2 separate regions of the Homo sapiens genome follow, and region 2 is linked to region 1. The links come from fine-mapping of genetic effects on gene expression. A gene starts in region 1. The other region holds a variant in brackets. All regions are shown on one strand. Distances are between the middles of the regions.

Region 1 (4,391 bases):
GAGACTGAGAAGAAAGTTAACTGGATTATGGAGAAATGCAATCACATCTATTGACTGGTTTTGACCTGACTGCGTCTTAAACACTTCCTTGTACCTTAATATACTCATTAAAAGGAGATATAATCCATATAATGAACAAATGTTTTATTATGCCATTTTTACCATGCAGTTAAAACAACCCAACCACTTGTTAATCAAATTTTAAACCATAAACTCTTAAAGTGGAACTAATAACTCTCCACAAACAACAAAATATCAACATGGTCAAAGTGGTCAAAGATAAAATAAATAGTACATATTTTAAAACATCCTGCAGAATTCAAAACCCATAAACACAAACGCACCAAAAAATAAGGCCCAAATAATCAATGACACTTACTAGTACACCAGCAGCAATGGAAGCAATAGTATTGCGCTTTTCCCCCCAGTCAATGCATTCTGAGCATCTCAAGCCCTCTAGAAATCCAGACATTTTTTTCAGGTCACTTAAAAACAAACAAACAAACAATTAAATAAGTACTTCCATTTACTTGCTTCAAGCCCGAAAAATAATTAATAGCTCAGGAATAATTAGATAAAAGTGAAATTACAAATGCTTTATTTTGGTTCCACATACTTCTTCAGAATATTTGATTTAGTTTTTGATGAATTTCCACATTATAACTTTGGAAAGTAATATCTGGATTCATTTAGTATCTTTTTTAATGTAAAAAATGGTTTGGGGGCCGGGCGTGGTGGTTCATGCCCGTAATCCTACCAATTTGGGAGGCTGAGGTGGGTGGGTCACCTGAGGTCAGGAGTTTGAGACCAGCCTGGCCAACATGGCAAACCCCATCTCTACTAAAAATACAAAAATTAGCCGGGGGTGGTGGCGCATGTCTGTAATCGCAGCTACTTGGGAGGCTGAGGCAGGAGAATCGCTTGAACCTGGGAGTCGAAAGTTGCAGTGAGCCGAGATCGTGCCACTGCACTCCAGCCTGGGCGACAGAGCAAGACTCTGTCTCAAAAATAATAATAAATAAATAGAAATAAATGGTTTGGATATATTTAAGCAGTATTAACAAAGGTGGGTCTCCAAATATTGAAAAAATTTTAACTACTGGTTGACCTCCTCCTGAAAATCTGTCACATCCTATTATTTCTAAGTAGGTATTAAATTAGTTTAGGTGGTACTTTTAATACCAAGTATATGATTACTAATCCACAGGAGCTCTTTTGTATCATTTTGATTCCAAACTTATTAAATGAATTTGATATTTACAGTCCAGGAGCACTAACATTAGTAGAGAGACAAGTGATAAACTTTGGCTCTGAGTGGAATTACAGATTCAAATGAAAAATATTTCTCTAATTTACATATTTTATCACAGAACGTGTGTTTCTTCACACCTAAATCAAGAAATTAAACACTGCACTGCAGTTCTTACCTCTACCCACATCATTTCCTTTCACTTCATTCATTATTTTTCTTTCTGCAAGCCTGCCTTTTGGTGTCATTTCTATATAAAGAACATCCACTTTAATATCCCTATCTCTGATCCTAACGGGTGTTTCCAGCCAAAAGCAAGCACAGAATCGTGGTTAATAGTAATTCAGATTACAAAAATCCAACTGCTATTTAAATATAGCCGACCCAAGCTGTCTTTACAAATTATATAAAACATTCCTGTAAGCCGAGCAGTAGAGACCTGAGATACAGCCATGTTATCTCTATTTCAGAGTATGAAAAAGCCTGAAATACATATAACTTGCGAATAACAACACCCAAACTCCTACAGCGAACTTGACTTCCTTAAGATACTTTGTAGCCAGCAATTATGGTTGTCCAAAAATATGACACCCTACAATAGAGCAACGTCTCCCATTTTTAACTTCTCTTTTAAAAATTAAATATTAAAATATATGATTACAGCCAATGCTAAGATGCCTTTGGGACAAGTTCAATTTAGGAAATTCACTCATTTGATTCTTCCCCGGGAAGAACTGCAATTCAATAAGTGTTATTTTCGGTTCATCCCAATGGCCCCACCCCGAATCCATTTTTCTTTGCACGACGACTGGTACGCTCAAGCCAGACCCCGCCCTCCAAACTCTGGGACTTTTAGGTCTCGAGGGACGCCGCTGGAAGATGGGGGAGCCACCTTTAGCCGGGGCACCCCTCGCTGAGGGAGCTGGCCGGGTCACGCTCCTTTCTCGGGGCTTCGGCTTGTCCAGCTGTGAAGTGGGGGATCGGGGGATTTTCCAGGGATCCTGGGGTGTCCCGGGGGAGGGCGCGGTCCCCTCTCCGTCTTGGCGGGGTCTGGACGCCGTCGCCTTCTCCTGGCGCCGCCGGACCCAGGAGAGGAGAGGTCCGCGGCGGCTCAGCCCGGGTCTGCGGCTTCCGGGAGGGTGGCGGCAACGAGCCTGTGCTGTGGGCACCAGCCCGTCAGACGGCCCCGGCTCCGAGGCCTCTCCAGCCTGCGGCCGCTACTCTCTTACCCCCACTCCCCGCCCGACACTTACGTCCAGCCCCGTCGTGCAGTGGTTCCGGAGCCCGGTGTCGCGCCGCGCCGGCCCGCCTCACTCCCCCGATTTTAGCCAAGAAAACAAAACGGCCACAGCCTCCAGACACCCGGATGCAGCAGTACCATCCACCCGGCTCAGTCGCGCATGCGGACACGGGGCGGAGGGCGGGGCGCCGGGTCCGGAGGGAGCCACGCCCACCACAACAACGCGTCTGCGCATGCCCGGGCGCTGGGTTCAGGGGCTTTCCGCCGCTCTGGGTTCACAGCTGGACGTCGGGAGTGCTAGTTTGGAGTACGCCATTTGAGAGTAGGCGTGAGAAGTTGCTCTGTGTGCTGAGCGTTCTAAAGGAAGGCGTCCGTTGGCCTTCGTACCCGTCTTGAGTGAGGTGACGAGTGTTTTCTAGTACTGGGGTCGGCCGCGCAGCCCTCTCAGGGGTGGGTGGCAGGAAGAGTGCCGGGTCCCGCGTGGTGCAAAAGGTGGGTTCAGGTTTGCGGCCACACAGCGCTACTCAGGACTTTTTAGTCTTGTTTATTTTCTCCGTGCCTGTTCCCGCCCCCCGCAGCTCCACCTCTGGGAGAGGGGCGGGTTCAGCTCCAGGAGGCGGGGACTTCCCGGCTTGGCGTGGCTGGGGTGTCCCGTGGACCCCAGTCTCGGCGCGGTGACCCACTTATGGGACTTGGCCTTTCTTTGTTGTTTGTTTAAGGCAGGGTTTCTCAGCCTGGGCACTACTGAGGTTTTGGGCCGGCTAATTCTGTCTGGGTTGGGGAGGGTGCTGTCCCGTGCTTCGCAGGTTGTGTAGCTGCATCCCCCGCCTCTACCCAGTGGATGCAAGTAGCAGCCCCAGTGAACCAAAAATGCCCCCAGACTTTGCCAAATATCCCCTCCCGGGGAAGATCGCCTCGCTTGAGAACCACTGTTGGAGGAGAGCCTGGGTTTTCGGGAGGTAACCGTTTACAAAGGGGAGAACGGTAAGAAGCCGGAAGCAACGATGACTTAGCTACGTGAAAGACTTGCGGCCGGGCTCGCCCCTCTTCTAGAAGCCGTCAGTTTGGGTCTCGCGTCTGGAATCACCGTCAAGGAGTCAGATCCAGCCCCGGAGAGGGAGCAGGGTCGAGGTCTCCTTGCAGAAGGCGCCACCGCAGGAAGCACAGGCGCAACGTGCGGTCTCCCTAGCGGAGGCGCTCGCGATCCTGCAGCCGCCGGTCCGGGAGGTGCTCGGTAGCCCTCCTTGGTGCCTGTCCGGTAGCTGGTCACTCTCGGGGGAAGGTCGTGTGCAGAAGGGCACATGCGATCACACAGAGACGGCGTTGCTGCGGCTTTGACCCGATGGTGCACCCGAAAGAACACAGAGGGTGAAGGGAGAGATCCAGGAAGTGGTCGCGGAGCAGAACCCCCCTTCACTTCAGTTAAAAAGGTGGGTCAATTGTCGTTAAGAGATACGCACAGGTTCATCTGATTGACATGTACGGCGGCAGTATATGAGTGGGATGGGAACCAAGGTGACTGTTGTTTCCTTTGATGGATGAAACTTTCATCCCTTTGGGTTTTTTTGTTTGTTTTTGGCGGTGCATTAGCCGATTAGTAGATAAAACTGCATGACAATCTATAGCCTGTTTTTAAATGGACACGTTCTTACCACTCAGGAGGTTTATCGTGATTGTTTAATGTCTCAGGGTGGAGGAATCTAGTGCAGGCAGTTCTTAATGAAACCTTTTAAATTCCCGTTAGTGACTTAACATTAGTTTACCAGCTCTGAGCAGCTTTAAACAAACATCCTCTTTTAATAGCTAATGAGTGCGGGAGAAAAGATACTAACTCCTTTCTCTTTGCGTTTTTTGCCCCTACCCTTTTTTCTCTTTTCTGGCCTTAACATGATTGTCAAATAT
Region 2 (4,391 bases), 170 kb before region 1:
TGTATTGGGTGCATATATATTTAGGATAGTTAGCTCTTCTTGTTGAATTGATCCCTTTACCATTATGTAATGGTCACTCAGGACTTGCTTTATGAATCTGGGTGCTCCTGTATTGGGTGCATATATATTTAGGATAGTTAGCTCTTCTTGTTGAATTGATCCCTTTACCATTATGTAATGGCCTTCTTTGTCTCTTTTGATCTTTGTTGGTTTAAAGTCTGTTTTATCAGAGACTAGGATTGCAACCCCTGCCTTTTTTTGTTTTCCATTTGCTTGGTAGATCTTCCTCCATCCCTTTATTTTGAGCCTATGTGTGTCTCTGCACGTGAGATGGGTTTCCTGAATACAGCACACTGATGGGTCTTGACTCTTTATCCAATTTGCCAGTCTGTGTCTTTTAATTGGAGCATTTAGTCCATTTACATTTAAAGTTAATATTGTTATGTGTGAATTTGATCCTGTCATTATGATGTTAGCTGGTGATTTTGCTCATTAGTTGATGCAGTTTCTTCCTAGTCTCGATGGTCTTTATATTTTGGCATGATTTTGCAACGGCTGGTACTGGTTGTTCCTTTCCATGTTTAGCGCTTCCTTCAGGAGCTCTTTTAGGGCAGGCCTGGTGGTGACAAAATCTCACAGCATTTGCTTGTCTGTAAAGTATTTTATTTCTCCTTCACTTATGAAGCCTAGTTTGGCTGGATATGAAATTCTGGGTTGAAAATTCTTTTCTTTAAGAATGTTGAATATTGGCCCCCACTCTCTTCTGGCTTGTAGTGTTTCTGCCGAGAGATCCGCTGTTAGTCTGATGGGCTTCCCTTTGAGGGTAACCCGACCTTTCTCTCTGGCTGCCCTTAACATTTTTTCCTTCATTTCAATTTGGTGAATCTGACAATTATGTGTCTTGGAGTTGCTCTTCTCGAGGAGTATCTCTGTGGCGTTCTCTGTATTTCCTGAATCTGAACGTTGGCCTGCCTTGCTAGATTGGGGAAGTTCTCCTGGATAATATCCTGCAGAGTGTTTTCCAACTTGGTTCCATTCTCCCCATCACTTTCAGGTACACCAATCAGACGTAGATTTGGTCTTTTCACATAGTCCCATATTTCTTGGAGGCTTTGCTCATTTCTTTTTATTCTTTTTTCTCTAAACTTCCCTTCTCGCTTCATTTCATTTATTTCATCTTCCGTTGCTGATACCCTTTCTTCCAGTTGATTGCATCGGCTCCTGAGGCTTGTGCATTCTTCACGTAGTTCTCGAGCCTTGGTTTTCAGCTCCATCAGCTCCTTTAAGCACTTCTCTGTATTGGTTATTCTAGTTATACATTCATCTAAATTTTTTTCAAAGTTTTCAACTTCTTTGCCTTTGGTTTGAATGTCCTCCCGTAGCTCAGAGTAATTTGATCGTCTGAAGCCTTCTTCTCTCAGCTCGTCAAAGTCATTCTCCATCCAGCTTTGTTCCGTTGCTGGTGAGGAACTGCGTTCCTTTGGAGGAGGAGAGGCGCTCTGCGTTTTAGAGTTTCCAGTTTTTCTGTTCTCTTTTTCCCCATCTTTGTGGTTTTATCTACTTTTGGTCTTTGATGATGGTGATGTACAGATGGGTTTTTGGTGTGGATGTCCTTTCTGTTTGTTAGTTTTCCTTCTAACAGACAGGACCCTTAGCTGCAGGTCTGTTGGAATACCCTGCCGTGTGAGGTGTCAGTGTGCCCCTGCTGGGGGTTGCCTCCCAGTTAGGCTGCTCGGGGATCAGGGGTCAGGGACCCACTTGAAGAGGCAGTCTGCCCGTTCTCAGATCTCCCGCTGCGTGCTGGGAGAACCACTGCTCTCTTCAAAGCTGTCAGACAGGGACATGTAAGTCTGCAGAGGTTACTGCTGTCTTTTTGTTTGTGCCCTGCCCCCAGAGGTGGAGCCTACAGAGGCAGGCAGGCCTCCTTGAGCTGTGGTGAGCTCCACCCAGTTCGAGCTTCCCGGCTGCTTTGTTTACCTAAGTGAGCCTGGGCAATGGTGGGCGCCCCTCCCC[C/G]AGCCTCGCTGCCGCCTTGCAGTTTGATCTCAGACTGCTGTGCTAGCAATCAGCGAGACTCCGTGGGCGTAGGACCCTCCGAGCCAGGTGCGGGATATAATCTCGTGGTGCGCAGTTTTTTAAGCCGGTCCGAAAAGCGCAATATTCAGGTGGGAGTGACCCGATTTTCCAGGTGTGTCCGTCAGCCCTTTCTTTGACTCAGAAAGGGAACTCCCTGACCCCTTGCGCTTCCCAAGTGAGGCAATGCCTCGCCCTGCTTCGGCTTGCGCACGGTGCACGCACCCACTGACCCGCGCCCACTGCCTGGCACTCCCTAGTGAGATGAACCCGGTACCTCAGATGGAAATGCAGAAATCACCCGTCTTCTGCGTCGCTCACGCTGGGAGCTGTAGACCGGAGCTGTTCCTATTCGGCCATCTTTCCTTTTTCCTCCTGGGCCTCTTTCATAGAGCCACCCTCATGACCTAATCACCCCCCAAAAGGCCTTGCAGGTGAGGATTTCAACATAAGGATTTTAAGGGTACACAAACATTCAGACCGCAAAAGGGCCCTGAATCTCCTTCCCTCAGCTAGTGTTCTCCAGCCCAAGATTCAGCCAAGGGGAGGACATATGACTCAAGTTTGGACTCTTTGTCTATATCAGTTTTTGCTCTGGTAACAAACAGCCCCCGAATCTCAGTGACTTAAGACCAGTAACACATATTTTTTGCTCCCACGTCTGAGGGCGGGCTTTGACATGGCTCACCTCTCACCCAGCTGTGGCCCCTCTCTGGGAGATGCTGTTCTCCCGCAGAGAGGAGCAAGAGGCTGATGTAAAGCACTCAGGTGCATTTCAGGCTGCCCACACCTGGCACACGTGATGCCCACTCACATTCCATTGACCAATGCAAGTTATATGGCCAACTTGGACGCTGAGTAGAGTGGGATGGATCAACCTCGCTGCAGGGATGGAGTGGATAATTGGGAGCAGTAGCACACATCTACCACCATCCCCCGACTTTGACTTGAGAAGCTGGGACATGGACTCACTCAGCCACGGGCCCTGCTGAGCAGCTCCTGCCTCCAAACTGCCCATGCTGGCTGGCTCCTGTCTTTCCCATATGGCCTCTTCAGCCCTCTCGACAGCCCCATATGTGCATGCCCCGTCTCTTTTCATTCAGTTCCTCTTTGGGCTTATACTGGCCGCAGTCAGCTTCTGTGGCTTGCAATAATAATAATTTAAAAAACCCTCATAAGCTGACACATAGTAACCACAAATTGGGGTGATGCTAGCAGAATTCCTTTTTGGAAACGAGAGGGCTAACAATTTATATTTGCAGACAGTGCGATAAATGTGGTTGACAAGGGGAATCCAGGACAAGGGCCTGGAAGGAAGCCCAGGGGCCAGAAGAAGAGACACGAGGGTCTCCACAGGGGAGGTGGGAAGACAGCAGAGACCAACTTTGCTCATATCTCCACTTGGCCAGCTAAAAACATTTGAAGTCCTAGCCCCAGCCCCAGCCCCCAGACACCTGCATGCATCCTCTGAGGTCCCAGGCCCCAGCAGGATGGAGGCTTCCTCTTACTCCCCTCTAGTTCCCAGTTTCTCAACCCTGACTGCATATTAGAAACCTCTGGGGAATTCAAACAAACAAAGCCCGGGTTCCTCCCCAGCCCAGTTAAATCAGGCGCTCTCAGGGTGGGCCCTGGCCATGGGCATTTTTAAGAGCTCCCCAGGTGACTCTAATGAGCAGCCAGGGTTGAGACCCACTGCCCCACTTCTCCTGAACTCTGCAGTGCGTGGAGAGGCCAAGGGACTGGGAGCAAAGCCAGAAACAGGAAAACGTAGGCACTTTACAGCCTTAGGTTCCTATTTAGCAGCTTCCAGACATATTTTGTTTGATCTGCAGATAATACATTTGAGCTAACATTTAAAAATTGGGAGATTTCACATTATCCAGATTCCTTTTGTTTTTGGTTGAAAAATCTCAAGTTCTGGCATCTCAGGGCTTCTGCAACACATGACTTACACAGATGACAGGCCGAGTCCTCACAGGTAACCATCTATTCCTCGGTCCTAAATCCCTTTCTTGAGCACTCGGCCAACTGTGATCCCACTAGACCCCTACGCCTAGGCAGATACCTCAGCAGGACCAACTGAGGGGCCAAGTGCCAGCTGGGGGCTTTCTCCTCACCCCACGCTGCTCACTCCAAGTTCCTCTTTGGGTTGGTTTTTATTATTTTGGAGTTGTTGTTTTGGCTTTTAGTCACATTTAAAATGTGTTTTAAAAATCATTTTTTTGTTATATGAATTTTAGATAATTTGGAATATACAGTAAAGTATAAAGAAGAAAATGAAAATCACCTATCATCTTAACTGCCTTTTGGGTTCTGAATAC

Evidence for each region. PIP is the estimated chance that this variant, and not a neighbour inherited with it, causes the effect.
Region 2: its variant is the best candidate, but not a certain one, in a credible set for the expression of TMEM50A in whole blood (INTERVAL, PIP 0.82).

What each region holds. Positions count from the first base shown.
Region 1 is chr1:25,336,568-25,340,958 of GRCh38, reverse strand. It overlaps TMEM50A (transmembrane protein 50A), which reads right to left and starts at 2,625. Exons shown (of 7, transcript NM_014313.4): 1 at 2,503-2,625; 2 at 380-485. The coding sequence starts at 472. It also overlaps a transcript of RSRP1 not described here. RefSeq lists silencers at 2,676-2,795, 3,787-4,081.
Region 2 is chr1:25,504,640-25,509,030 of GRCh38, reverse strand. No RefSeq gene overlaps it. Among named protein-coding and RNA genes, the nearest start is that of LDLRAP1, 37 kb to the left of the region's middle. RefSeq lists an enhancer at 1,621-2,530. The variant C/G (reference allele first, on the strand shown) is at 2,014.